Regions from separate parts of the Homo sapiens genome. Here all the other regions are linked to region 1. The links come from fine-mapping of genetic effects on gene expression. A gene starts in region 1. Each other region holds a variant in brackets. All regions are shown on one strand. Distances are from middle to middle.

The links. PIP is the estimated chance that this variant, and not a neighbour inherited with it, causes the effect.
Region 2: its variant is fine-mapped to the expression of FAM153A in minor salivary gland (GTEx, PIP 0.97).
Region 3: its variant is fine-mapped to the expression of FAM153A in whole blood (TOPMed, PIP 0.96).

The regions. Positions count from the first base shown.
Region 1 is chr5:177,779,010-177,788,351 of GRCh38, reverse strand. It overlaps FAM153A (family with sequence similarity 153 member A), which reads left to right and starts at 5,453. Exons shown (of 23, transcript NM_001413826.1): 1 at 5,453-5,609; 2 at 7,848-7,903.
Region 2 is chr5:178,575,368-178,586,216 of GRCh38, reverse strand. The region is part of intron 1 of COL23A1 (collagen type XXIII alpha 1 chain); the gene reads left to right. Among named protein-coding and RNA genes, the nearest start is that of COL23A1, 9.6 kb to the left of the region's middle. RefSeq lists an enhancer at 3,192-3,691. The variant AAGGATGTCTT/T (reference allele first, on the strand shown) is at 4,601.
Region 3 is chr5:177,917,609-177,928,457 of GRCh38, reverse strand. No RefSeq gene overlaps it. Among named protein-coding and RNA genes, the nearest start is that of PROP1, 73 kb to the left of the region's middle. The variant T/G (reference allele first, on the strand shown) is at 5,830.

The DNA of each region.
Region 1 (9,342 bases):
GATGTATCTCAAAATAATAAGAGCTATGTATGACAAACCCACAGCCAATATCATACTGAATGGGCAAAAACTGGAAGCATTCCCTTTGAAAACTGGCACAAGACAGGGATGCCCTCTCTCACCACTCCTCTTCAACATAGTGTTGGAAGTTCTGGCCAGGGCAATCAGGCAGAAGGAAATAAAGCGTATTCAATTAGGAAAAGAGGAAGTCAAATTGTCCCTGTTTGCAAATGACATGATTGTATATCTAGAAAACCCCATCGTCTCAGCCCAAAATCTCCTTAAGCTGATAAGTAACTCCAGCAAAGTCTCAGGATTCAAAATCAATGTACAAAAATCACAAGCATTCTTATACACCAATAACAGACAAACAGAGAGCCAAATCATGAGTGAACTCCCATTCACAGTTGCTTCAAAGGGAATAAAATACCTAGGAATCCAACTTCCAAGGGATGTGAAGGATCTCCTCAAGGAGAACTACAAACCACTGCTCAATGAAATAAAAGAGGATATAAACAAATGGAAGAACATTCCATGCTCATGGGTAGAAAGAATATTGTGAAAATGGCCATACTGCCCAAGGTAATTTATAGATTCAATGCCATCCCCATCAAGCTACCAATGACTTTCTTCACTGAATTGGAAAAAACTACTTTAAAGTTCATATGGAACCAAAAAAGAGCCCGCATTGCCAAGTCAATCCTAAGCCAAAAGAACAAAGCTGGAGGCATCACGCTTCCTGACTTCAAACTATACTACAAGGCTACAGTAACCAAAACAGCATGGTACTGGTTCCAAAACAGAGATATAGACCAATGGAACAGAACAGAGCCCTCAGAAATAATGCCACATGTCTACAACTATCTGATCTTTGACAAACCTGACAAAAACAAGAAATGGGGAAAGGATTCTCTATATAATATATGGTGCTGGGAAAACTGGCTAGCCATATGTAGAAAGCTGAAACTGGATCCCTTCCTTACACCTTTTACAAAAATTAATTCAAGATGCATTAAAGACTTAAATGTTAGACCTAAAACCATAAAAACCCTAGAAGAAAACCTAGGCAATACCATTCAGGACATAGGCATGGGCAAGGGCTTCATGTCTAAAACACCAAAAGCAATGGCAACAAAAGCCAAAATTGACAAATGGGATCTAATTGAACTAAAGAGCTCCTTCTGCACAGCAAAAAAAACTACCGTCAGAGTGAAGAGGCAACCTACAGAATGGGAGAAAATTTTTGCAATCTACTCACCTGACTAAAGGGCTGATACCCAGAATCTACAAAGAACTCAAACAAATTTACAAGAAAAAAATCAAACAACCTCATCAAAAGTAGGCGAAGGATATGAACAGACACTTCTCAAAAGAAGACATTTATGCAGCCAACAGACACATGAAAAAATGGTCATCATCACTGGCCATCAGAGAAATGCAAATCAAAACCACGATGAGATACCATCTTACACCAGTTAGAATGGTGATCATTAAAAAGTCAGGAAACGACAGGTGCTGGAGAGGATGTGGAGAAATAGGAACACTTACACTGTTGGTGGGACTGTAAACTAGTTCAACCATTGTGGAAGAGAGAGTGGCGATTCCTCAGGGATCTAGAACTAGAAATACCATTTGACCCAGCCATTCCATTACTGAGTATATACCCAGAGGATTATAAGTCATGTTGCTATAAAGACATGCACACGTATGTTTATTGTGGCACTATTCACAATAGCAAAGACTTGGAACCAACCCAAATGTCCAACAATGATAGACTGGATTAAGAAAATGTGGCACATATACACCATGGAATACTATGCAGCCATAAAAAATGATGAGTTCATGTCCTTTGTAGGGACATGGATGAAGCTGGAAACCATCATTCTCAACAAACTCTCGGAAGGACAAAAAACCAAACACTGCATGTTCTCACTCATAGGTGGGAATTGAACAATGAGAACACATGCACACAGGAAGGGGAGCATCGCAGACCAGGGCCTGTTGTGGGGTGGGGGGAGGGATAGCATTAGGAGATATACCTAATGTAAATGATGAGTTAATGGGTGCAGCACACCAACATGGCACATGTATACATATGTAACAAACCTGCACGTTGTGCACATGTACCCTAGAACTTAAAGTATAATAAAAAATATATATATATAAATTTTATTGGGACTATTTTGATTCTACACCACTATTCTTTATTGGGTGTAACCCAGCAGGTCCACGAATAATAATAATTATTATTATTACCTTTTTTTTTGAGATGGAGTGTCACTCTTGTCACCTGGGCTAGAGTGCAGATGCGCAAAAGAGTGAGACTCTGTCTCAAAATAAATAAATAAAATAAAAACAGGAAAATACATTTGTTGACCTCCTGGGTTGTGCCCAATAAAGAATAGTGGAGTTTAATAGCGGTTCACTGCAACCTCCACCTCCCAGCTTAAAGCGATTCTTCTCCCTCAGTCTCCCAAGTAGCTGGGATTACGGCACCCACCACCATACTCAGCTAATTTTTGTATTTTTAGTAGAGACAGGGTTTCACCATGTTGGCCAGGCTGGTCTCAAACTCCTGACTTCAGGTGATCCGCCCACATTGTCCTCCCAAAGTGCTAGATTACAGGCGTGAACCACCACGTCCGGCCTAACAAATGATTTTTCATAGGTCACTGGACATCAAGGAGCCACTTGTGAACCAGGTGGAATGCAGGTGGGATGCATAGCACATGGCCCACAGGACCTGCACTGTGGGTTGGATACAGTAACGGAAGGGGCCTTTGGTCTTTCTTTTTTTTTTTTTTTTTTTGAGAGAGAGTCTTGCTCTGTTCCCCAGGCTGGAGTGCAGTGGCGTGATCTCGGCTCACTGCAAACTGCGCCTCCCGGGTTCACGCCATTCTCCTGCCTCAGCCTCCAGAGTAGCTGCTGGGACTACAGGCGCCCACCACCACGCCTGGCTAATTTTTTGTATTTTTAGTTGAGACGGGGTTTCACCGTGTTAGCCAGGATGGTTTCGATCTCCTGACCTCGTGATCCACCCGCCTCGGCCTCCCAAAGTGCTGGGATTACAGGCGTGAGCCACCGCGCCTGGCAAGGGACTTTGGTCTTTCTTGCTTGGGGCTGGGATGAGTGTGTACTTGTGAGAAGAAGGAGGCACAAGGCAGATTGGGTGGCCACAGCTGTAACCTGGAGCCACAGAGCAGGCTTCTGTTACACACTATTCTTCTTTTCTTCACTTTAACAGAACCATCCCTTGAGGTTTAGCTGGGGGCACCTGGCTGCCCAGCTACAGACTAGATTTTCCAGACTAATTTATATCAATTTTCTTTATTCCTTTAAAAGTTGTTTATTTATTGCACTTACATACTAAGATACCATTCTCAAAGGACCACGAAAGCAGAAATGGTTAATATATGAAGCTGTCTATAGGCATGATAGAATAAAAAGTTTAAAAATTATTTGGGTCAGGCTTAAATAACTTTAACAGGTTAAAAAAAGTGTTTGACAATATTCAACAAATAATTCTTCACCTAATTTCTTATTGAAGCAATCACCTTAATATTCATTGGCCTTGATAAATGTGAACACTGGTCATATTTATGTAAATAATGGTCATGTGGCTTTCTTGGCATATCTAAATTCATGTTAGATCTGGCTTAACCTGTGCTTATGTATGTATATGTTACAGTTATGTACATTAAATGTGTGTGTAAGAGTTGGAATTATTTGAAAGATAGCAAAATTTTAACTAGAAAAAATAAGTTAATATCTAATAATAGTTGACTTGTTGATTAAAATAAGTAGTTATTATGAAAGAGAAAAAAGGTGATTTCAAATTGATTCAGAAGAACTGGCCTAGCAACTAAGATTGTATGCTTTCCTTTTTTTTTAAAAAAAAAAAGAACGGATATAATGTTATGTGACAATTAAATACAGAAATTACAAAACTAGTTAAATTGATGTTGCCATTAAAGCAACATTAAATAGTTTTGGGGGAGAAGAAAGAAGCCGAGAAGATGGTATCTGTGCAGTTAAGATGGTCATGTCATTTGATACATGTAAACAGAAAGCAGCCTGAGGCCCACACCTGCACCATGCTGAAAGAGCTGACCAGCGTTATATGTTCAGTCCTAGATGAAATGCTGCATTTGTTTTTTAAACACTGGTATGCATTGTTTTAAAAATGTATAAAATAACAGTGAAAAGTTAAAGAATCGTAAGAATGTAGCTAAAGGTAAAAAAAATTTGCAAAGCCATAATTTTTATGATGAAACAATATATTTTTTATCTTTTACGTATAATGTTTTAATGCTTTTTTAGCCCAATGAAATGTGGAAGTGTTTTGTGATTTTTATCTTACTATAGTGATTGTTTTATAAACAAAGAAAAAATTAATTCAGGATTGCAGATATGGTAAACTATTAAAATAGTTTGGGTATTAAAATATGAAATAATTGGGTATTAATTCAAAATCCAAGAGTTGCCATTGAACAAACCTGTAGGCATAGGTAAGTGCTGAGGTGAAAGTGCCAACCAAAGCCGTTAGATTGAACATTTATGCCTGGAGGGAATCAGTAGAGGAACTGGCTGTGGACCTTCACCTCTGCATCCCCTTTGCTTTCTGCTGTAGCTGGGTATCACAAAAACAACAACAAAAGCCACTTATTTCTTAAAGACAGAGAAAGGATAGTTCCTTCCATTTAGGCATTCCTAAATTGCCTCCCCGGTGGCCCCTGCGCTCTTGGAGGAGGTCAAGGCAGAGCAGACCCTCAGGTGGGGGAGCGATGCACTTGACCCTGAGGACATCAGGTACCAGGCCCACTAGCCCCCGCAGGCGCGGAGCTGCGGCTGCAGCCACCAGCCTAGACGTGGCGCGCCCGCAGCAAGTGGCTGGACACCGCAGACCAGGCCCGCGTCCCCAGCAGCGCGGATCCCGGGGCCAGCCGCCCAGGCAGCAAAGTCAGGCGGTCGGCTTCGCCAGCAGCCGATGAGTCTCATCCTGTGGATTGCCCAGCGCCAGGGATCAGGATCCGGAGAGGTGTCCAGGAGGAGCAGACCCTCAGACCAGGTAGGCTGTGCACTCAGTGACCCTGACGCCATCCAAGGGAAGCTCCGCCATCCCGCGCCAGTGCCAGAGCTGCAACTGCAAACTGCGCGTCCTGGCACGAGCAGCGGTGGGGGCGGGTGGGGGAAGGAGCGAGTGACTCTCCAGGCGTCTTCCGCTACCTGACACCAGCCAGGCAGCCCCCAGGGCCAGAGCGTCAGCGCCGAAGCCAGGCTCATCCGGGAAGCCACTCCGGTGGCCGCGGGGTGCCCATGCCAGCACCAGATCTCTCTTCGGAAGGAGGAGCGGGGCGGGCTACACGGCCAGGCGGGCCCTCCCCTTAAGGCGGGGTGGGCCGCGCGCCTGCGATTTTCCGTCCGTGGTCCTGGGGCAGCCCTGGCCAGCCCAGGAGAACCCGCGAGCCCAGCGGCGCCTGCACCTGCGGCTTCCGGGAGCCGGGCGGCTTTGCGAGGCTCACTAGGTCTGAGAGGTCGGAGGCCGCCAGTGTCGCTGCTGAAGGGTGGACCAGGCGGGATCGCGGATTCTGGGCTAGATCGCAGACTTGGTATCGCGGATTGGGATTTGGATCGGGGATTTTGAGTTGGATCACGGATTGGGGGTTGGATCACGGATTGGGGTTTGGATCGCGGATTGGGGGTTGGATAGGGGATTTGGAGTTGGATTGGGGATTTGGGGCTGGGTGTGGGGCGAGGGGGAGTGAAAAGGTGACACGGAGCTGCCGCGGCTCAGGAGCCAGTGGTTGGGGGTCTGAGAAGAACTCACCACCTTGAAGAAGTTCTTCGGCTTTGGGAGCCGCAGGGGCCGGCGGTCCGGGGCTCCCTAGGCCACGTCTACAGGGGTTCGGGGTACCGAATCGGAAGATCCACAGGGCGCTGTCAAGGGCGAAGCCGCGGAAGTGGAGCGCTGCCTGGCGCGCAGGAGCAGAGACCTGGAAGCCGGGGACAGGCAGCACAGGCAGTGGGGTGGGGGCTCAGCCCAGGGTGGGAGGGGGTCCCCAGGCCCGGCTTCCCCGCAGCCCCTGGGATGGGGCCTCAGAGGGCACCCTCAGAGGGGTGGTGCCAAACGGAGCCTCAGCTGCTCTGCATCCCCCATAATTCCCCAGCTGGAGCGCTTGGTGGAGAATGTGAGTGATTTAACTCACCAAGCTAAGCATACACAGTGTTATTTTTAACCTACACGTTTAAAACATGGTGTTATATACATTATAGGAGGTGCCTAATGAGAGAACTCATTCCTCTATCAAAAAATACCGTGAGTCGGCCGGGCGCGGTGGCTCAGGCCTGTAATCCCAGCACTTTGGGAGGCCGAGGCGGGCGGATCACCAGGTCAAGAGATCGAGACCATCCTGGCTAACACGGTGAAACCCCGTCTCTACTAAAAATACAAAAAAAAAAAAAAAAATTAGCCGGGCGTGGTGGCGGGCGCCTGTAGTCCCAGCTACTCGGGAGGCTGAGGCAGGAGAATGGCGTGAACCCGGGAGGCGCAGCTTGCAGTGAGCCGAGATGGCGCCACTGCACTCCAGCCTGGGCGACAGAGCGAGACTCCGTCTCCAAAAAAGAAAAACAAACAAACAAACAAAAAACCGTGAGTCATTTTCAGTAGCGAAAAGCTCTCACCTAAAACTGTCCGTTTTACATCCGTATCCACCTGTGTAGATCGGTTCTTTACTGAAGGTTCTTAGAAGGAAACTTGGAAGTGGGAGGTGGGTTCTGTGTTCCTGAATGGGAAGACACATTTTTCTCAAAATGTGAGCTCTTTCTGTGATTATCAATTTTACATAAGCCGAATGAAAAAATCAAGGTTTTAACATTTTTGCATGACACCTACTGTCTTTTACTATTGTAATGACATTTGTAAAAATTTTAGGGCTGGGCGCGGTGGCTCAGGCCTGTAATCCCAGCACTTTGGGAGGCCGAGGTGGGCGGATCACGAGGTCAGGAGATTGAGATTGAGACCATCCTGGCAAACACGGTGAAACCCTGTCTGTACTAAAAATACAAAAAAAAAAAAAAAAAAAAAAAATAGCCGGGCGTGGTGGTGGGCGCCCATAGTCCCAGCTACTCCGGAGGCTGAGGCAGGAGAATGCTGTGAACCCGGGAGGGGGAGCTTGCAGTGAGCCGCCATCCAGAAGTGCTGGGATTACAGGTGTGAGCCACCGCGCCCGGCCTGAAAAGTGCATCTTCATTTTACAGGGAATTCTTTCAAATCAAATAATCAAAAACTGTAAAAGGGGGCAAAGTACTTTTTTGCAGATCTACAAGTTTCTTATGTAAATAGGAAAAAAAGCCTTTGCTTTTCTGGTATAAGAATTTAAATTAAAAGAGGAATGAAACTGTTTTCTATCCACAATGTGTGAGGATGTTTTTTATACTGCTGCCTGAAGTTTAAGTTGCTGATTACTTTTTAAATAGATAATTTGGTGGTAAGTACTATATTTTAAAAATGCGTATGCCCGTTACCCTTCAATTCCATTATACTAAAATACCCTTGGGAAATAGAGATACATGCACTTTGTTTTTCACAGCACTTATTTTAAAAAGAACCCATAGAATGGATCTTATAAGTAAATTTCAGTTGCATCCATAGGATGCAATAATATGTGACCATCAAAGGTGACAATAGATATAGAAGTACGTTGATGTGCGAAGATGTATTTTGTTTTAGCCAGCGAGGAAAAAAGAATCAGTTTGATTACACATTTACCAAACATTAAGAATTTAATATGGTAACTTTTATTTCAGTATTAAAATAGCAATTTTATTTATTACTTTTTTATATACAGAATTCGACACCAAATTTTGGAACTTAAAAAGAAGATTCTTAAAACTTACAATCCAGGTAAGACTTCTGATAGTGAATTTCTCATTTCTCATGGTGGTCCTACTCTTGGTTTAAAAAAATTAAGATGTAAGATTAAGGTAGTTTTGAAGGAAAAGAAAAGTTTAAAAAGATGTGTAAATTGCATGTATATATACATATATACATACATGTAAATTAGTTTCTTATATTTAACTTCTTTAGTTTGGAATTAAGAGTTATTTAAGAAGGTAGTTGTAGCTGATTTATAATCTCAAACAGTATTATCTGAAAAAAAATCATTTACTTAATTATGATCCCGAAAATCCTATATAATATTTATGTTTTCTCTATAGTCACATTGTAACAAATTGGACTTGTTATACATATGGATCTTCTAGTTCATTTTTGTAATAAGTTGTTTATTTTTATAATAAATTGTTTATATTTAGTAAATACATAATTACACTTGACCCATGAATAATGTGGGGGTTAGGGGCTCTGATTCCAGTGCAGCTGAAAATCTAAGTATAACTTTTGATTTTCCCAATTTAGCTACTAATAGCCCACTATTGACTGGAAGCCTTCCTGATAACATAAACGGTCGATTAACACCTATTTTATTTGTGCTGCATTATTATATACTGTGTTCTTACAATAAAGTAAGCTAGACAAGTGAAGCTGTTAGAAAGAAAATCTGCAGGAAAAATATATTGACTTTTCATAAAGCGTAAATGGATCCTCACAAAGGTCTTCATCTTTATCATCTTCAGGTTGTTCAGGCTGAGAAGGAAGAGAGGTTGGTCTTGCTGTCTCTGGGTTGCAGAGGCAGAAGAAAATCTGCATATAAATGAACTCCTGCAGCTCAAACCCTTGCTGTTCAAGGGTGAACTGTATTACCTGTTAATTTGTGTCACTAAGGAAGTATCTTTAGAACCGGGAACTCAACAATCCCTTTCTCGTAGAATAAATAAATGGCAGTAAGAACTGTAAAAGTGAACCAGTGTGCACCCATACGAATAGGAGATTATTTTTTGAAGATACCTACTGAGTGCAGAAGACAGAAAAGCAATTCCTTTGTGAGAAGCACAAGTTATGTTACATATTCTTACATAAGCAAAATGGTTTTATCTGTCATAGTTTACACACACACGTGCACATACACACATGTGCGTTCGGGTGCGCACACACACACACACACGCACACAAAGTTAAAAGTCCTGCTGATTGTTAATGACCAAATCCACTGCTTGCAGGGAGTAGTGGATAACACAGCCTACAGCTTGCATGCAATTCTTTTGGCTTTTTGACTTGTTCTGTGATGAACTGCCTTGAATGGGTCAACCATATTTTAGTTTTATAAGAAATGAAAAGATTAGAAGCAAGTAAAAGGAACTCTATGATCAGTAGTTATACTATTATACTATATTCAATGGTTATGTTTTTTTCCAGTTATGCAAGTTACTTGAATGATGCACAAT
Region 2 (10,849 bases), 800 kb before region 1:
TGAGTGTCCTTTCTTAGCACACACTACAGGAGAAGCTTGGAAGACGGTCAGCGCATCCTGGGTCTGTCAGCGACTTGGCCACACCTGAGTACCACTCAGTCTCTGCCGTTCTCTTGTCCTTTCCTCATGGTCACAAGGTGGCTGCTGCAGCTGTGAACCTATGTCTTCACCCAAGAGTAGCCTGGGTAGAAGGGAAGGGGGCAGGGAAGAGAGCGGTCTTCTTGAGAGGTTGTCTCTTTAATTTCAATTCAGGGGAAAACTTTCCCACCTTTCGGCAGACTTACAGCCACTAGCCAGAGCTAGGTCACAGGGTCGCCATCCCCTTCACTGGCAAGGGTAATGCGATCGCCATAGGAGGCTTTGGCCAATCTTGACTCATCCCCTGAGGCTGGGCGTGTTGCCGCTGGAACAGAATCGAGGCTTTGGTAGGAAGGAAGACTGGGCATGGCTACTGGGGAGCAACCAACAGGGTCAGCCAGGGCTGTGGAGTGTTACCCCAGCGCCATCCAGGGCTGTAGGGCATTACCCCAGCGCCATCCAGGGCTGTGGAGTGTTACCCCAGCGCCATCCAGGGCTGTGGAGTGTTACCCCAGCGCCATCCAGGGCTGTGGAGTGTTACCCCAGCGCCATCCAGGGCTGTGGAGTGTTACCCCCAGCATCAACCAGGGCTGTGGAGTGTTACTCCAGCGTCATCCAGGGACGTGGAGTGTTACTCCAGCGTCATCCAGGGCTGTGGAGTGTTACCCCCAGCATCAACCAGGGACGTGGAGTGTTACCCCAGTGTCAACCAGGGCTGTGGAGTGTTACCCACACATCAGTCAGGGCCGCGGAGTGTTACCCTAGAGTCAGCTGGGGCCATAGAGTGTTACCTGAGCGTCAGCCGGGGCCACAAGTGTTACCCCAGGGTCAGCCGTGGAGTGTTACCCCAGTGTCTGCTGGGGCCATGGAATGTTTCTGTTGTCACCCCAGAGGAGGGTGGGGCAGAGCGGGGGTTCAGTCATCCACTGGCCCGCCTAAGTTCTCATAACTGGGCCTTCCTTCTGCTTTGGTGTTTCCCAAGGACCACATTTTGGGAACATTCTTCAACCACAAAATTTCTGCCTCCCCTGGGGCTCTGCTGTCCAGCTGTGCTGCCGGCCACAGCTGAAGGGAAGGTTGATGGGTTTGGGATTGTCTCTGGCACAGTCCCGTTGGTTGCAGTCTTTGGCCTTTAACCCTTGAGCAGATGCTGTTCTGCCCCCGAAGTGAGTGACTAAGGGTGGCACTCTAGGACATTGCTTGCCAGCTTTCCCATATCATAGCACATGCAAAGAATGGTAGCACTTCCCTCACTGCAGGAAGGGAAGAGGACACTAGGCTGGAGGTGACCAGCCACTCCCCAGCCCCGAAGGACCAAGGTAGTCAGTCTACCAGAGACCACATACAGTGCACCTGCACCCACTCGGTGTGTCTGGGAAGCTCTGTTACCCCCTACTATCCTGCCTTTCCCCCAGCTCCTTGGCTTTCTTAGCAGCCATATCTGACTGTGGCCTCCAAATCCCCTTCCAGAGCAGGTGCAGTTACAGTCATGGTCTCCAGAGCAGGCTGTCCCTCCTTCCCTCACCGAGCAGCAACCCATTAGCTTCAACCTTTCTAGATGCCTTTGGATCCTTTTACCCTCAAATAGCAATGTGACATGACTCCAAGATGGTGCAGCTTAATTTCAAAGAATTCAGGCTGGGGCGTGGTGGTTCACACCTATAATCTCAGTGCTTTGGGGGACCAAGGTGGGTGCATAACTTGAGCCCAGGAGTTCAAGACCAGTTTGGATGATATAGCAAGACCTCGTCTCTATTTAAAAAAAAGAAAAAAATTTATATGTATTTATTTCTAGGTGTGTGTGTGTGTGTGTGTGTGTGTGTGTGTGTGGCCAGGTGCAGTGGCTCACACCTGTAATCCCAGCACTTTGGGAGGCCGAAGTGGGTGGATCACCTGAGGTCAGGAGTTCGAGACCAGCCTGGACAACATGGCGAAACCCTGTCTCTACTAAAAACACCAAATTTAGCCAGGCATGGTGACATGTGCCTGTAATCCCAGCTACTTGGGAGGCACGAGAATCACTTGAATCCGGCAGGCGGAGGTTGCAGTGGGCCAAGATCATGGCACTGTACTCTAGCCTGGGTGAGTACATCTCAAAAAAAATAATAATCAGCTGGGCATGGTGGCGCAAGCCTGTAGACCAGCTCCTCGAGACACTGAGGTGTGAGGATTGCTCGAGCCCAGGTGTTTAAGGTTGCAGTGAGCCATGATTGCGCCACTGCACTCCAGCCTGGGTGACAGACTGAGGCTGTTTCAACAACAAATAAAAATTGGGGAGAAAGCAGGGGGTTATTAATTAGCTTGAGTAACGGAGAAGTCCAGGCTAGTGTCTGTGTAGGCCCGGCTCAAGGTGCCTGGATTTTGTTTCTTCCTCTTGGCTCCATATTTCTCAAGGATGCCCTCACTCTCCCCATAAAGTGCCAGGGAAGCTTCCAGCAACTCCAGATTCACATCCTTAGTGTTAGTTTCTGTTTTCCAACAGTCCCAGCAGAAATTCCCTAATTCCCTCTGATGGACCAGTGTGGATTGCCTGCATTTATCAGTACAGACAGCCTGCATCTAACAATACGGATTACCCGTCCTGGTCACTGAGACCCGCAGGGCAGCCTCTCGATGGGCGAGGCTCAGCTGCGTCTGTGTGTGTGTGTTCATGTGTGTGCACGATCAACCCCACTGGAGCTCTAGGGACCAAGAAGTGAAAGCTGATCCCAAAGGACAATTTGGAGTGGTGTTATTGGAAGAAAAGGGAGAGGACATGAGGCCGGCAAAACCAGTAGGTGACCATCCAAGGAATAGGGTGAGAAGCTTGGGCTCTAAGCTGGAGCTGTGTTCTAGAGAAATTCCACCTCAGTGGCATGAAACTCAATGAAAGGATTTTTGATCCAGTGGGGAGGCCAGTGGGTGCTTGTTCTCTAGGGGTTTATGTACATTGATAAATTTGGGTTTATCGGTAGCAGTGTCGAAATCTGTGTTTCTCTGTATATACTGTGCTTACAAAATGTCAGCTTTACAAGTTACTTCAAATCCTAAAAGTTGCCCACAACAGCCTCATGAGATGTACAGACAGAGGTTACTGACATTGTTTTACAGGGGGAGAAATGTCACAGAGGCGGAAGAGCACGCAGGGCCAGGCCTGAGCTCCCTTAGGTTTGCAGCCTGCCTGGGAAGAAGGGAGTGAAAGGGACGAATGTCTGCGAACCCTGTGTGTGGGTTTGGCACTCAGTCTGGGACAGTGCGGGTGTGCCCAGGTCAGGCCACCTACTCCCAGGTCCCTGTTTCTCTGCCCACTTTCATCAGCTTCCTGGGGAATGTTCTCACGGGGAGTGTTCTCAGAGGATGTCTCTGGCCTGGTTGGGGAGTCTGGGGAGTACCCCAAGTCCTCGGGACCTGGAATGGTGAGGTGCATGTAGCCTGGGGGTAGTCACGCCTTGCTTGGTGCTTTTGGAGGGCGGAGTCTGGAAGAGGAAAATGCTGAGGGCTGGAGGGGAAGGCTCTAGATGAGGAGCCTGGGGGCCTCTCTGAGCCTCAGTTCTGGCTGTGAGGTGGGGCTGGCGCAGCCAGGGGTGCGCTGTGAGCCCTGTGCCCCGCTGTCCTCTGCTTTCAGGACCTCGCGAAGTGTGGATGTGATCCTGCACCTTCAGAGGAGCCCTCTCTGCCCCACAGATTTCTACGTTGCTCCCTTCTCTCGAAATAATTCTGAGTCCCTCCCTGGGGCAGTGGCGGGTGTTGGGGAGGTGGAGATCCTTCACAGTGCCCTCCTCCAGGCAGCTGCACATCGCATTCTTGCCCCTTGACGTGCCCATTAGCGCTCCAGCTCCTGCTGCCGCTGAGCTGTGGCTGCCTCCTTTACCTAGACTCTCAGGTCGGGAAATGGCATAATGGCTTGCCCATCCTTCTCTCCCTTCCTTTTTTTTTTTTTTTTTTTTTTTTTTGAGATAGAGTCTCGTCCTGTCTCCCAGGCTGGAGTGCAGTCGTGTGATCATAGCTCACTGCAGTCTTGAACTCCTGGCCTCAAACAGTCTTCCTGCCTCAGCCTCCCAAAATGCTGGGATTACAGATCTAAGCTACTGCACCTGTTCCCCCTGCCCCGCACTTTTTTCTTTTTTAAATAACCAAGCTATGTCTTGATTTAGCATGATGAATGTTACCCTATAATCTTACCATCCTAAACCAAGGGCTGTTTAACTTTCTGCGCAATCCTTTCTCATCCATCATGTAGACAGATATTTGCTTACCTAATTTTAACCACAGAATGCATACCATTTTTACCTTGCTTTTAAACTGTACATCAGACACATTTTTCCAGGTGATGGCTCATCTTTAGGGTCATGTGTGATGACTGTACCGTATATCCCATCAAGAAAATCTTGCATATCCCATCAAGAAAATCTGCATCCTACTATCAACGTGGCATACACCCTCCCCCTATTTTTGTTAGTGCAGATAATGGTACAGTCAGTGGTTTTGAGGGGAAAGTTTCTTTCTTCTGTTATTCTTTGGGATGTGGAGTAACTGGATACAG[AAGGATGTCTT/T]TCGGGCTTTGTTTTTCGTTTTAATTTTTTTTTTTTTTTTTGAGACGGAATCTCACTCTGTCGCCCAGGCTGGAGTGCAGTGGCATGATCTTGGCTCACTGCAACCTCTGTCTCCCGGGTTCAAGCGATTCTCCTGCCTCAGCCTCCCGAGTAGCTGGGATTACAGGTGTGTGCCACCATGCCTGGCTAATTTTTGTATTTTTAGTAGAGTTGGAGTTTCACCATGTTGGCCAGGATGGTCTTGAACTCCTGACCTCAGGTGATTTGCCTGCCTTGGCCTCCCAAAGTGCTGGGATTACAGGCATGAGCCACCACGCTCAGCCTCGTTTTAATTTTAGAACATCTGAGTTTGAGACAGACAGGTTTCTCCTCCTGTGGTATTCGGAAGCTGTGGGACCATTATGAAATTGTGCTTCAAGTTTTATAATGGGCAACGTGGATTCAATATATCTTTTAGTTGAATTTTTAATTTCAGTTGGATTTATCATTGTTGTCGAAAGCAAAAAGCAATTGATAACAAAGAAAGCCTTTAAGTTTGAAAGTTTCATTTCAGAATGAAACCCCTGTATCAGTTTGGTGTGGAAACTTTATTTCTTTTTGAGATAGAGTCTCGCTCTGTCACCCAGGCAGGTGTGCAGTGGTGTGATGACAGCTCACTGCAGCCTCCGCTCCTGGACTCAGGTGATCCTTCCGCCTCAGCCTCCCGAGTATCTGGGACTACAGGTGAGCACCACCACAGCTGGCTAATTTGTAAAGTTATTGTCTTGCTGTGTTGACCAGGCTGGTCTTTCACTGCTGGACTCAAGCAGCCCTCCCACCTTGGCCTTCCAAAGTGTTGAGATTACAGGCATGAGCCAACCACACCCGGCCAGAAACCTTTCTTGAGCAGCATTTAGTGGTGCCAGGCACCGTGCTTGGTCCTCACTGTGATTTGTCGTTATGTGAACGAATGTAATTCAGTTTGGGAAGATTCTCCAGAGGCCACACACCACCTCCAGCTTTCTCCCTTATGCAGTTTTCATCATGTGTTGAATCAGGATTAATCTTTAACTGTTGACATAGGCACGCAGAGAACATCCCTTCATCATGTCCAGAAACATATTTCAGGACTAAGCACGAACCATTGGGGAAAAAAAAAAAAGCTTGCAGATGTCCTCTGAAAGTCACGTGTCGGCGTACTTCTAGAGGCTATAGGAGAAACAACTGTGTGCGTCCCATGTGTGTCCTGGGCAGAGGATTCACATGTCCTCTAGTTTCTTTCTTTCTTTTTTTTTTTTTTGAGATGGAGTCTCAGTCTGTTGCCCAGGCTGGAGTGCAATGGCACGATCTCGGCTCACTGCAGCCTCTGCCTCTCAGGTTCAAGTGATTCTACTGCCTCAGCCTCTGGAGTAGCTGGGATTACAGGCATGCGCCATCACACCCGGCTAAGTTTTGTATTTTTAGTAGAGATGGAGTTTCACCATGTTGGCCAGACTGTTCTCTAACTCCTGATCTCAAGTGATCCACCCGCCTTGGCCTCCCAAAGTGCTGGGATTACAGGTGTGAGCCACCATGCCCGGCCTCATGTCCTCTAGTTTCTCAACAGCCTCCTCTCTCTACAGCTGCTCTATCGTGGGTAAGATGGGATCCAGCCTCCCAGAGAGGGGCAGCGATTGGCCCCTGGTGGCAATGGGCACCTGAACCTAGGTGACCCAGTAACCTCACTCCTAATCCCTAGCCCTTTCCACAGCCTCATGGCAGACCTGGTGGAAACAATGATTTGGCTTTGAGCAGCAGCTTTTTCTGCGAGTGTGGACATCCTTGTAGACATCTGTAAGTGATGGATGCGTGGAGTGGCAGGGAAGACTTCAGCCTTGGCCAGACGCGGTGGCTCATGCCTGTAATCCCAGCACTTTGGGAGTCTGAGGCAGGTGGATCACAAGGTCAAGAGTTCGAGACCAGCCTGGCAAACATGGTGAAACCCCGTCTCTCCTAAAAGTACAAAAATCAGCCGTGCGCGGTAGTGGGTGTCTGTAATCCGAGCTACTCGGGAAGCTGAGGCAGGAGAATCTCTTGAACCCGGGAGGCAGAGGTTGTAGTGAGCCGAGATCTCGCCACCACACTCTATCCTGGGCGACAGAGCAAGACTCCGTCTCAAAACAAACAAACAAAGACTTCAGCCTTGAGGACACCCAGGTTCACATCCCAGCACTGCTATTTTCCAGCTGTGTGACCTCCGGTAAATGAGTGTTTTTCCAAACCTCAGTTTGCCCATCTGTTAAACAGGGATTATAGTACTTGTCTCACAAAGTTTCTGTGAGAATTAAACAAGGGGATGTATCCCAAGCGCTCAGCATGTCGTGCACACCCTGAACATGGCTGCTGGTATTAGAGTTTTTTCTTTGACTGAATTTGGAAGGAATGTCTACATCTGTTTGCTAATCGAGGTCCCATGGTGACACGGCTGACTTTAAGATTCTTTTAACACCGGGATTCTGCCATCCTATTAAGGATATACAGAAGCAAAAAAGCTGTTAGCACATGTCCAGCCTCTGAGTCAAGGAGCAGAGAAATGTGAGTTGGTTGTTGAAGAAATGCAAAGACTGAATTTGCTTCATGACCCCATTTTTTGGTTTATCATTTGAGCAGACTGAGACTTTCCATTAATTTTAAAAAGTCATGACCAAAATAAAAATAAAATTATTCATGAAAATAATTGTATGGATTTGTCATTGTGAAAGGGCACACAAATACCTAATCAATTTGCTTTAATTAAGAGAGTCCTCTGTCTCAAAAAAAAAAAGTCTGCTTTTATAATCATGCGGTATGGCGGCAACACGGCGAAATGCTCGTGGTTAACCTGGTGAGCTAGAGGCTTCACACACATCTGCTTCGCTTCACACTGGGAAATGAGAAAATCTATTCTCCTGATGTAGCCACGGAATTTTTGGGGGGCAGGGGTGGGTGGGGGAAGGCGGTGCTTGCAAATGGGTAATGGCAACTTCTAAAATGGAATTTGTTTCCAACTCTGAGCTGTGAAACAAGGCATAAAGCAATTAGAATGTATTTGAAAAGACAGTTTAAATAAAATCTACTCAACTTTGGGCCTCCCGGGAGGAACATCACACAAAAAATGCCGGATCTGCTCATTGATTTGACTGTGCTTTAACTGCGCCTTTTTGCGTGGGGCTTGGGCGGTTATATTACCTCCTGCAGCCTCCTTTCAGACCAGGCTTGTGGTGCAGTCAGGAAGGGAAGATTCCCATGATGTCAAGGGGACTCGAGTGTGTGTGAGCGTGAGCTAGTGTGAGGGTGGAAGTGTGTATGTGTGTGCCAGGAGAATGCATGCATGTGTGTGTACATGGGTGTGTGTGCACGTGTGTGCCAGGAGTATGCATGTGTGCATATGTGTGTGTACATGGGTGTATGTGTGCACGTGTTTCATGTATGCATATGCACGTAAGTATGCCTGTGTGTGCATGTGTGTGCATGCATGTGTGTGTGTGCATGAATGTGTGCATGTGGGCGTGTGCATGCATGTGTGTGTGCATGAGTGTGTGTGTGCATGTGGGTGTGTGCATGCACGTGTGTGCATGCTGTGTGGGCACTGTACAGGCATCTCACTTAGACAGTGAGAGACTTTATAAGGTCCCCAGATGGGACCAGCCTGACCTTATCGCCTCACTGTGGAAGTTATCCCGTCCAAGTGTCCCCGAAAGACCCTGTAGCTGGGCCCTGACGGCTCATGCAGTGGGCTTTAGAATTGGGAAGCCTGGGTCTGAGTCCAGAGCTGCCTCTGAACCGGCCAGCGTCCTGGGACAAGTTGGTTGACCTTTCCGAACCTCGGCTTCCTCTTCTGGAAAGGGGCTGGCCGAATCCGCCTCGCTGGTCTTGGTGAGGACTGAGCAATGGCCCTTCTGGGGCTGCCCCGCGGGGGCGCAGCGCGGCCAGAGGAGCCCCCTTGACACTCGCTCTGGTCTGGGCTGGTACAGAGACCCCATCCAGGCAGCGGGGGGCAGGCGCGGGTTCTGGGAGGGCCCTGGGCTGTTCCCCAGGTCTCCTCCCCAGGCCCCGCGCGCCAGGCCCTGCTGAAAGCCCCAGCGGATTCCCCGGGTCCTGTCCTCGGTGAGTGCCTGAGCTTCCCCCTACAGCACCACGCCGAGGTGGCGGTGTCATGGGCTGAATCGTGTGCCTCCTTCCCGTGGCGAAGTCCTCACCCCTGGGCCTCCGGATGCGGCCGCCCTTGGGGATGGGGTCTTTAAAGAGGCGGATGAGGTGGCACAGGTCGTTGTGGGGGGGCCCTGATCCAACAGGGCTGGTGTCCCGAGAAGAGGGGAGACGCGGCCAGCACGCTGGGACCACCAGCCGCAGGGAGAGGGCTCGGGAAGAAGCAGGCCCCGCCAGGACGCGGGAATGAACGGCGCGCCGCGCCCCGGGCTCCGGACCACCCGCGGGATCCCCGGACGGCAGAGCAGGGACCCGCTGGGCCTTGGGAGTTGGGCTGAGCGAGGAGCGCCGGGGCCTCGGCCCACAGGGCGCGGAGGCGCAGACGGCGACAGGGAGGACCCCGGCGGGGAGTCCTCAGGCAGAAGCAGTACCGCGCTAGGGACACAGGCGCCGGCCGCTGCCCGAGGAGGGGCCGCTCCCCGGGCGCTGCGCTGGGGCCGGGGCGCAGCGGGGAAGACGTCTCCGCGGGGCTGACCCGGCAGAGCGGCCAGCGCCGCGCTGCTCGCCTGGTCCAAAGCCGAACCCAGGCGGCCTCCCGTGCGCGCAGGGGGAGGGGCGGCGCTGCCCGAGAGGCCCGCGCTGGAGGCGGAGGCCTGGCGCCTCGGAGGACAGGACCGAGAGGCCGGCGCGGCGGTCGCCGGGGGACCCGTTGGGGCTTTTCGCAGGGCCTGGCGCGCGGGGCCCGGGGAGGAGACCGCGGCCGTGGGGAGGAGAGAGTTCGAGGATCAGGAACAGCCCGGGGCCCTCCACGACCCCGCGCCTGTCCCCGCTCCTACCGCCTGGATGGGTCTCTGCGCCAGCCCAGCATGGTGAACCCTGGAGGGCGGGTTCTGAGAAGCCGTGTGTGTCTTTGAAAAATAATGAGGACGGGCTCGGTGGGTGGCTCACGCCCGTAATCCCAGCACTTTGGGAGGCCGAGGCGGGTGGATCACGAGGTCAGGAGTTCGAGACCAGCCTCGCCAGTATGGCGAAACCCCGTCTCTACTAAAAATACAAAAATCAGGCGTGGTGGGGGGCGCCTGTAGTCCCAGCTACTTGGGAGGGTGAGGCAGGAGAATCGGTTGAACCCGGGAGGCGGAGGTTGCAGTGAGCTAACATCATGCCACTGGACTCCAGCCTGGGGCGACAAGAGTGAGACTCCGTCTAAAAAAAAAGGATAATGAATGGCAACGCCAGTGGGCTATTGGGCAGCAGGGCAAGACTTTTTCAGCCAGTATGCTTTAGGGAACTGAACTTTGCTTGAAAAAACTACCTTCGCAAAATCACCCCCAACGGCTGTAAGTTGGAGCTCCCAGCATCGACTTGCTGCGCAAGGAGAAACACAGTCTGAAGGGGTATTGAGGGACTGCCAAAAGCACTGCGGCTTCGTGACCGAGCCCCTCTCGACATCACTGTCCAGGCCAATTTGAGTTGGGTTTTTATCCATCGCTACTAGAGGAATCAATGGATTGACTTGCTCGCTTGGAAGATTGTGAAGTAGTTGTGGCTACGGTCATATTCCGAACACCTGGTGTATGTGAGTTTCTCTGAGGACACATATGCCTGGCAAAACTCGGAGCAAGTGAAGGTGGACCTGGTCTCCGCTTCCTTCCTGTCCTGCGCCCCTTCTCCTCACCCCCAACACAATGGCTCATGCACTCTTCTTGCCTTTCCCAGGAACTGTCCTGCGTTCTGTTTCTGCTCTCACAGCAATCAGTCTCCTGAATAGTGAGGACCAGGTGGCAGGTGCCTTGTCTATGGGAAGAGCACAGGACCTGCTGTGGGAAGACTTGCTTTTTAGTTCCAGCTTTGCCACTGCCCATCTAGGTGGTCTAGGTGAGCCATGGAACTGCTTGAGATTTATCTTCCAAAAAGATAGGTGGAAATAATGATAATCCATGATCTTCTGCAGGAGCTCCTAGTGAGGGCCTAAGGAGGTAACACATAGGAGTGTGTTGTGAACGGCAAATTAACACGAAAAACATGTTGCTGTTAATAAGCAGCTGAATGTGTGGCTTTCCTTGGGAAATGCTGCATTTTCAAAGGGGGTCTTT
Region 3 (10,849 bases), 140 kb before region 1:
GGCTCCCTGCGGGAGCTGGTTTGATTCCTGTTGCCCCTAAAGGAAGACTTTTGATATTTATCCCCACTCGGTAAAGAACAATGAAGAAGGAGGAGATGGTGAAGATGCCCTTCGCTCCCCTCTAGTCCACATTCTACAAAATGTGTCCACCTCATTCCATGATCCTCTCACCAGCCTGAGAGGCAGCTATCATCACCCCATAGTTGAGATGAAGAAACACAGAGGCCCAAAGACAGGAAGCGAGTTGCTGGAGCCACAGGGAGAGGGGAGAGGAGATGCAGCTGGGACCCGGCCCCAGCCCATCCAGCCCTGAAGGCCTCCATGCCTCGCTGCCTCTCCAGCCTGCCCAGGGTTTCGGTGACTCAGTGACCCATGCAGGCCCCCCAAGCAGGGAGGAGGGAGAAGTCAGGCTGCACAAGAGGACAGGGACCCTGCCCAAGGCAGAGCTGCTTTGCCCCCTCTTCCCCTCAGGCATCCCGGGGACCCGGCCTGGTTGTCCACCCACATATGCACGGCTCTCTCTGTCTTGGACCACGGTACCATCACCCACACCAGCTTCTGAGCCAGCCCTCCATAGGCGTCTGCCCTGAATCATTGCATTTGTCTCAGAAGATTTTTGATATTAATGTCATTCTGCACTAATGAGTCCAGCCCACTTGGTCCCAGCTGGAGCTTCCATTGTCTGCTGATTAATTGGTACAGAACTCTGGGGGGTAGCAGGGGGAGGTGGGGGAAGAGAAAGGGAGAGAAGAGCCATTTCCAGAGCAGAAATAGGTTTCCTCTGCTCACCAGTGACTATTCTCCTTATCCTGAAGCCTTCAGCTAGGTATGGGGCAGAAACTAGAGGGCCACTCCCTCCTCAGCCACTTAACTGTCCCGCTTCAGGAAAAGTGAGACCCATGGATACTGTCCCAGCGTACGAAGGTAGGTCTGGAGGAAAGCACAAGTTAAGAACTGGTAGACTTGAGCCAGTGCAGTGGCTCACGCCTGTAATCCTAGCACTTCGGGAGGCCCAGGCATGTGGATCACTTGAGGTCAGGATTTTGAGACCAGCCTGGCCAACATGGTGAAACACCATCTCTACTAAAAATACAAAAACTAGCCGGTGTCATGGTGCATGCCTGTAGTCCCAGCTACTCGGGAGGCTGAGGCAGGAGAACTGCTTGAACCCAGGAGGTGGAGGTTGCAGTGAGCCGAGATTGCGCTGCTGCACTCTAGCCTGGGTGACAGAGTGAGACTCCATCTCAATTGGTAGACTTGGATTCTGACTCATCCCAGCTCTGCTCGCTGTTGCCCTGGGCAAGTTGCTGGCCTCCCCAAGCCTCATTTTCCATCTGCAAAATGGGGGACAAAAGTCCCACCAAAGCACAGAGATGAAAGCTCTTGGATTTGACAACTTGGCTTTCAACTCCATATCTTCCATTTAGTGGGGCTGCGTGGCCTTGGGCAAGCTGCCTAACCTCATGTGCAAAATGGAAATATTAACAGCACCCACCTGATGGGGCTGCAGTGAGGACTGAAGGAGAAATGAGGAAGGTGCAGTGCTTGGCCTGGCGCTTAGCAGGATCAGTAAATAGAGGCTATTGTTACCACGTCTGGAAATAGCCACCTGATTAAACAAAGCCTGTGACTCTACTTGGTGGAATATTATGCAGGCACCAAAAAGGATACACAGTAGATGGTGCAGCCCAGGAAATGCCTATGTCCAAATGCCTTCTTCACTAGATCTCTTCAAGGGAATAATTATCTCCATTGACAGAAGGGATAGCTGAGGCTCACAGAAGGGGCCTGAATGGTCCCAGGTCACAGAGCAAGTAAATAGCTGAGCTGGGAATTGAACACAGGGAAAACCTGTCTCGAAATGCAGACTCCATCCTCTTTGTCACAATTCCTGCACATCATATTTTAGAAATTGATTTGCTCAAGTCAGGAGCCTGCAGGCATTTCATTTTGGTTTCTGTCCAGGTGATCATGATGTTTTTTGCCATTGATAATTATTTTTTAAGGCAGATAATAATGTTGACCTGCACTCCCCACCTGGCTGATGTGCAGAGCAAAGGAGCTCAAAGCTGTGTGTGGGATCTGGCAACAGGACAGAGCATGTGAGCAACAGTTAACATCATTCCAGGACTGGGGTGGCTTAGCTTAATACTACACAGTCATTCATTCATTTATTCTACAAGCATTTATTGAGCCTAAAGGTACATGTTCTGGGCTCAGAGGACACAGCAGGGAACCAGAGAAATGACATATTCCTGCCTTCTTAGAGCTGACATCCCTGGGGAAAAGACATACACTAGACAAGTAAACAGACACAAATACTAGAGAGGAAAATAAAGCAGGATCAGGGCATGGGGGCATGGGGTGACGCTCCTTTGTTCATGGTGTCATGGAAGGCCTCTCTGGTAAGGTGCCATAGGAGGCTAAGGTTCAAACAAAGAAAGGAGATAAACCATGATATCCAAGGGAAAAGCATCTGGGCAGAGAAACAGCAAGTGCAAAGGCCCTTAGTCTGTTGGGGCTGCTCTAACAAAATACCATAAAATGGGAAGCTTATAAACAAGTAATTGACTTCTAACCATTCTGGAAGCTGCGAAGTCCAAGATCAGGGCACCAGCAGATTCGGTGTCTAACGACAGACAGCTTGCTTTCTGGTTCCCAGATGGCACTTTCTCACCATGTCCCCACACAGTGGAAAGGACAAGGTGGGCCTCTTTGATGAGGGCACTAATTCCATTTGTGAGGGCTCCACCCTCATGACCTACTCACCTCCCAAAGGCCCCCTTCCTAATACCCTCACACTGGGGATTAGGTTTCAACATAGATTCAGAAGGACACAGTTGGACCACAGCAGGCCCTGAGGCTGAATTATACCTGTGAAGTTCAGGAAACAGCAAGCAGGCCAGTGTGGCTGCAGCGAGTAGGGGAAGGAGGTGGGGAAGGGGTGTGGTGGGCAGCAGATGCTACAGGGCCTCACAGGCCACTGTAGGAACTTCAGAATTTACCATTCAGCATGAAGGATCTGGCTTGTCATTCTCTCATTGGTTGTATTATTTGCATTTTCTTTACCCAACAATTTCCCATTTCTGACCAGATAAAATCTGAACTCCCAGATGTGGCATTCAAAGGCTTTCAGAGTAAGGGGAGGACAGGGAGGTGCTCAGTACCCCACCTCACTTTCCAGCCTCCTGTCCTGCCGCTCCCCACCATACATCGTCACCGCCCCCCTCCCCTCACTACCCTCTGTCACACCTCTGTGCCTTTGCCCATGCAGGGCTCTCTGCCTGCCTTCATTCAGGCTGACACTCAAATACTTGAGGAGCACCTCCCGAGTGCCAGGCCCTAAGGGAGGGGCTGGAGAAATAGTGGTGAGCAAAACTGTCCCTGTCTCTGCTCATCTGGCATCTAGCAGAGAACAGCAACACTAACCTGGTAGGTGGGGAACTGTGGGCCGTGGCAACGGCCACTCTGGAGTGAGGGTAGACAGGGAGGCCCTGAAGAGGGAGTGTGGAAGCTGAGACACAAGAACGAGCAGCAGTCAGCCCAGCAAAGAGGTGGGAAGAATGACTAGCCCCCTTGAACAGCACAGCAGAGGGAGGAGGGAGGGAGAAAGAGGGCAGAGCTCGCCTCACCTGAGCCAGGCCGGGAAGGGAGCTCAGCAAATAGGCAGCGCCCGCCAGGCTCAGCGGCAGGTAAACAGGACTCTGTGCCACACCTGCTGCCCCCTCACCGCCCGCAGCCGCACAGGGATCAATATTTGCCTACAGACCTGTCTTGCCTGATGAGTGTTTGGGCATCCGCCAGGCAGGCCTGGCTGGAGGGGAGCTGGCAAGAAGCAGGACAGTCCTGGGGGATTCCAGCGCCTCACTGCCTGTAGCCCTGAGATGTGGGACCCAGACCAAGAAGAACCACAGCCAGGAGCCATGGGCAGGGCATCACCAAAGTCCTTCACTACTGCTCCAGCGGGGTTAGGAAGGCCTGATGCCAGGAAACCAAGGATAGAGTGACCCCAAAAAGGGCAGCCCACCTCCACACCTGACCACAGCTGCCGACCGCAGAGCAGCCGCTGCCTGTGTCCCCCACCCTTTCTCACTCACTTCTCCTCCTTCTTCTAAATACACTAAATGCATGCCGGGAATAAATTAATTCTGTATCAGATAGTTGAGAGAACTGCAGAATTATACATCTCCACCTTGTACCTTCTGAATTTTTGTGCATTATTGGGTATTCAAATGAGTAAACAAATAGTAAGGTGCTTATTTTCATAATTTTAAAAAATCAAATTGTAAAGATTAATTCATTGAAAACGAAGTCCCCTGACCCCCTAATTCTACTTCACAACTTATCTTCATCTTAACTCTGGTAAGATTTCATTTTCAGCATAAATAGCATCATATCACACATCCGGTTCTCCCCTAACGACATGGTATACCCTGGGCACCTTTCCACCCCCACACATCTGGGGCTACCTCATTCTTTTTTGCAGCTAAAATGTTTTCCATGTCTTGGATGTACTGGGGTTCGTGTAGACCCATTTTGGTGGACATTTGTTTCCAGTTTTGTTTTGTTTTCTTTCAGTTTTGGTTTTGGCTATTAAAAATAATTCTCTACTGGACAGTCTTTTACTTGCATCTCTGCGTATTTGTTGGAGTTTCTTTGTAGAATACATTCTCAACTGGAGGGCAAATGGCTTGTACACTGTTTACATTTCACAGACATTGCCACAGTGCCCTCCAAAGAGGCTGTGCCCCTTCCCCTCCTACTGCCTCAGCCCAGGAAAGAGACTATTTCCCTGCCCTCAGCTGTCAGGAAACCTTTAGCTCTTTGACAAACTCATGAGTGAAAGATGATAGCTGTTTTATTTGTATTTCTTAATTATTAGTGAAGTTGGTATCTTTTAGGGCTAAGTCATTTGCATTTTTTGATGAATCGCCTCATTATACACTTTACACCGTTTCTTTAAAGGGGTATTCTTTCCTTATTTCATTTCAGCGATGTTTTAGCACCTACTCTGTAGTGGTTTACCACCCCCTTGTGAAACAGGATAGAGTGTGTCTGCACGGAAGCAGGGGGCAGAAGCAAACAAGAGTTCCTGTGTGGGGCATTCCCAACACAAAAGAGAGGTCATCAAGCCTTGAATCTGGTGAGACTTGAAGCATCTGATTACAAATGGACTGAGCCTCCATTTCCTTATCAGTAAAACAGAAAAATACAGTAATTCCTGTCCCTTGGTGAAAAAAAGCACAAAACCGTATGTGTAGGTCAGAATACCAGTCAAAACTGACATAAACCAAAAGGGAACTTATTGGTTCATGTAACTAAAAGCTCCAACTTCAGGCATGGCTGGATCCAGGTGCTCAAACACCATCAAGCATCGTCTGGCTCTCTCCACATTTCAGCTCTGCTTTCCTCTGTGTTAGCTGCATTCTCAACCTAGAGATACTGAGATAGCACCCAGGAGCTCCAGACTTATATCCTATTGATTCAACTATCCACGGAGAGCAGCTCCAGCAAAAACCCAGGGATTCGCTGTGATTGGTCTGGACTGGGTCATGCATCCATCCTCAAGCTAATCACTGAGGCTTGGGTGATAGACGATATAGATTCACCAGGCCTGGAGCTGAGGGATGAGAATGAGTCCCATATGAAGCATGTGGCCTGAGCAGGAAGATGAGGAAATTCAGCTGCTGTTACCAAAAGAAAGGACAGGATAAAACTATAGATGTCCCTCTGCGAGATTTTAGCCCTGCCTCAGCTATGTGACCCTGGACAAATTATTTCTCCTCTCCAGCCCTTGAGTTCCCTACCTGTAAGATTCTGACTTCAAAC[T/G]CAATTGCTGATTTTGATACCTTTTGTAGCAGAAAACTTTTTTACTTTTCAATAAACAATACATGGAACCCAAAACACAGAACAGATAAGAGCTGTATTTTATTAGAAATGTTACTTGTGTTTAATTTTTATTTTACTTTACGCTCTGGGATACATGTGCAGAACATGCAGGTTTGTTACATAGGTATACATGTGTCATGGTGGTTTGCTGCACCTATCAACCCATCATCTAGGTTTTAAGCCCCACATGCATTAGGTATTTGTCCTAATGCTGTCCCTCCCCTGGCCCCTCACCCCCCAACAGGCCCCGGTGTGTGATGTTCCCCTCCCTGTGTCCATGTGTCCTCATTGCTCAACTCCCACTTATGAGTGAGAACATGCGGTGTTTGGTTTTCTGTTCCTGTGTTAAGTTTGCTGAGGATGATGGTTTCCAGCTCTATCCATGTCCCTGCAAAGGACATGAACTCATTTTTTATGGCTGCATAGTATTCCATGGTGTGTATGTGCCACATTTTCTTTATCCAATCTATCATTGATGGGCATTTGGGTTGGTTCCAAGTCTTTGCTATTGTAAATAGTGCTGCAGTAAACATACCTGTGCATGTGTCTTTATAGTAGAATGCTTTATCATCCTTTGGGTATATACCCAGTAATGGGATTGCTGGGTCAAATGGTATTTCTGGTTCTAGATCCTTGAGGAATCACCATACTGTCTTCCACAATGGTTGAACTAATTTACACTCCCACCAATAGCGTAAAAGTGTTCCTATTTCTCCAAAGCCTCGCCAGCATCTGTTGTTTCCTGACTTTTTAATAACCTCCTTCCTAACTGGCGTGAGATGGTATCTCATTGTGGTTTTGATTTGCAAAAAATGTTATTTGTTTGATCCAGTATTAGTCAGGATAGACCAGAATCTGCTGTAATAAATAAACCCCAATATCTCAGTGGCTTAACACACAAAGGTTTGCTTCTTGCTCCTGTCACTGTTCGGTGCAGGTCAGGGAACTCTTCTTAGCAGATCTTCTCTACCCCTCAACCAGTGGTCCAGAGACCCACCCTCCCACCATCTGTGGTTCTGCCATGATACAGCTCTGGCCTCTGTGTAAGGGGAAGAAGCCACAAACTCCATGTCTGCCCACATCCCAGGGGCCCTCAGCATCCAGTCACAGGCCTCTATTCAAAGGCAAGAAACTCTGGGAAATGTAATCTTCCTCTACTGGAAAAGGAAAATGACACTGTATGTTCTATAACATTTACTTATTATAAGGTCAGTCATTGAGAACAATGAGGTTGTTTTGATAGATCAAAAAGAATAAGAAATTCCGCTGGGCGTGGTGGCTCACGCCTGTAATCGCAAAACTCTGGGAGGCCGAGGCGGGTGGGTCGCTTGAGGTCAGGAGTTTGAGACCAGCCTGGCCAACATGGTGAAACCCCGTCTCTACCAAACATACAAAAATTAGCTGGGCGTGGTGGTGGGCGCCTGTAATCCCAGCTACTCGGGAGGCTGAGGCAGGAGAATGGCTTGAACCACTGCACACCAGGCTGGGTGACAGAACGAGACTCTGTCTGAAAAAACAAACAAACAAACAAAGAAATTAGATATCATGGATGACAGATTTAGTCATGTCTCAACCTCAGCACTGACTTTAAGCTTCAAAACTTTTAAACTTTTTAAAGTTGCAAATATATTAAGAAAATCCCAGGTCAACAAGTAATAGCAGTTGAAAATCCTAGCAGTATTTAGAACCTTGCTTTGCTTGCAATTTTTAGGGTCCTCTTTACTTGTACAGAGATAGCAGGACAAACTTCAGTGTCAAACTTACTGACAACTGAGTTAATGGCAGAAGAAACTGTGCTGGCCATCTCCAGATGCTAACATTTAGTATGCAATATATCCAAGGGTTTTTGTTCTGTTTATTACAATGCTCAAATCCATATTTCAAATGTGAAGCTCAAATACAGTGTTTGCGGAGGGCTCTGTTCTGGAGCGCACAGTGCCAGAGGACCTTTGGGTTTCATAATGCATATGCATCTAAGCAGAGAATGGCTGGGTGTCCTCAGGCAAGACGTTTCCCCTCATTAGGCCTTGGTCTTTTCATCTATAATAGGGAAGGCTCAGCAAACCCCAGGGCCTCGACCAGAAAACAAATAAACAAACAGACCACACACAAACACACAAAGATCCTTTGCTTTTGGTGAAGGCATCTGCCACGTTGTGACAATGCTCAGGTAGACTAGATCGGGCAACGGAGAAAGAACCTCAGGCTTCCAGACATCAGCCACTGAACAAGCCTGGAGACGTCTGCTTCAGCTGGAAGCTTTATTGCAACCTCATGAGAGACTCTGAGCCAGAACCATCCAGCTAAGCTGCTTTCAGATTTCTAACCGTCGGGCACTGTGAGATAAAAATATTTGTGGTGTTAAATGCTATGTTTTGGAGTATTTTGTTACCCAGCAGCAGATAACTAATACAGATGATAAAGGGAATGATTTCATCTTCTTAGGTGTGATACTGGTGGTGTGATTATGCAGGAGACTGCCCTTATTTTTAGGAGTTTCAGGCCAATGTAGTTAGTGATTTAGTGGTGAAATGTCCTGATACCTCTACAATTTAGTTTCAAATGGTCCAGCAAATATATAAACATGGCAGGCGTGCGTGCACACACACACACACACACACTCACACACACAGTTCCTGAATCCAGGTGCTAAGTATACAAATAATCATTGTATCATTCTTTTAACGACTCTGTATCTTTGAAAATTCTCACAATAAAAACTTAAAGAATTTCTGCTTCTAGCCAAGATGAAGTAACAGAATCTTGATTTATCCTACCACTGAAAACAACCAAGAAACCATTAAAAATATATGAAATAGGCCAGGGAACAGTGGCTCACACTTGTAATCCCAGCACTTTGGGAGGCCAAGGTGGGTGGATCACTTGAGGCCAGGAGTTCGATACCAGCCTGGCCAACATGGTGAAAACTCATCTTTACTAAAAATACAAAAATTAGCCCAGCATGGTGGCAGGTGCCTGTAATCCCAGCTACTTGGGAAGCTGAGGCAGAAGAATTGCTTGAGCCCAGGAGGCGGAGGTTGCAGGGAGCCAAGATCACACCACTGCACTCCAGCCTGAGCAACAGAGCGAGACCCTGTCTCAAATATATATATATACATATATCTAATATTTTATATATAAAATACATATATTTATATATAAATAAAATAATGAAATAGCAGTTTTCAAGACACTGGACACCAGACAACAACAAAGGACAGTGATCTCTGAGAGATGCAAAATAAGACAAACCCTGTAATTTTCCCCAATCACCGTATTAACAGAGATTCCCAACCATAACCCAGCGCAGGCGAACTGAGGCAGATCCCAGCAGACTCCCTATATTGAGGAGATAGAGCTTCTTCTCAATGTCTGCCTACAAACTCTTGTTTGTGTTAAAATCTTCCATTCATTGAAAGAAAACACTAACTGATGAATCATTTGGAAAGCAAGCTTCTTTTTACTTTCTGGGGCTGAATATCTCCATTGGCCTGTGGATGCATATGAGAGTAAGAAATTTCTTCTACTAGATTCTTCTTGATATCTACCTACGATCTCCCTTTTGTCTTAAGATTTTCCACTCCAGGAAGGGAGACAAAAGCAGAGTTTCTAGAGCAGATTGCAGAGAAAAGGTAACTGCCCAGAGAGAGAGCACCAGAAATCTGCAGTGGGTCTCCCTCATGGAAACGGCAGAGTATCGGTCAACTCATGTATGCAATAAAAATACCTGAGGCTAGGCCAGGCATGGTGGGCACACACCTACAGTCCCAGCTACTCAGGAGGCTGAGGTGGGAGGATCGCTTGAGCTCAGGAGTTCAAGACTGTAGTGTGTGATGATCATGCCTGTGAATAGCCACTGCACTCCAGCCTGGGCAACACAGTGAGAACTCATCTCTAAAACAAACAAAATATAAAAGAAACCTGAGGCTGTGGAAACAAACAAACAAACAAACATCTGAAAGGATTCAAAGCAGTAGTATCTCGCACTCACACAGGGCTAAGAACAGTGCTTACTGACACCAGGCGGACGTTAAAATCGAACAATTCACGGATCATTGGGTGGAGCACTCACAAGGGTCTTTCTTTAGTCATGTGGAATAATTAGTCCTAGACTAAGCATCGCTCTAAACCTTCCTAACAAATAATAAAAGCAAGACCCCAGGAAGATCAAACTATTTCCAAGTAAATTGCATTCCAGAGCAAATATTTATAAAAATACAAACATATTAAACACCTGACAAAGTAAAATTCACATATGGCATTCAATCATCAGGGATTATCAAGCATGCATAGAGGTGGCAAAAACACAAACTATAATGAGGACAATAATCAATAAATCAAACTGACCAAGAACTGACACAGATGTAAGAATTAGCAAAGAAAGGCTGGGTGCAGTGGCTTATGCCTATAATCCCAGCACTTTGGGAGGCTAAGGCAGGTGGATCATTTGAGGCCAAGAGTTTGAGACCAGCCTGGCCAACATGGCAAAACCCCATCTCTACTAAAAATACAGAAATAAGCTAGGTGTCATGGCAGGCACCTGTAATCCCAGGTACTCATGAGGCTGAGGTAGGAGAATGGCTTGAACCCATGAGGCAAAGGCTCCAGTGAGCCAAGACTGTGCCACTGCACTCCAGCCTGGGCAACAGAACAAGACTCCATTTCAAAAAAAAAAAAATCATCAAAGTACATTAAAACAGTTATGAAAATTATGCTCTATAAATTCAACATTAGGTAGAGATATGGAAGATATACCAAATACCCAAATCAAACTTCTAGAGATAAAATTTATAATGTTTAAGAGGAAAAATATATTGTATAAGATTAAGAGCAGATGAGACATCGCAGAAAAAAAGATTAGTGAACTTGAAGACATAGAAATTACCCATAATTACACAGAAGAAAAAAGAAAAAAATAAAAAGAGCATCAACAACTCTATGTCCAAAATTTAATAACTTA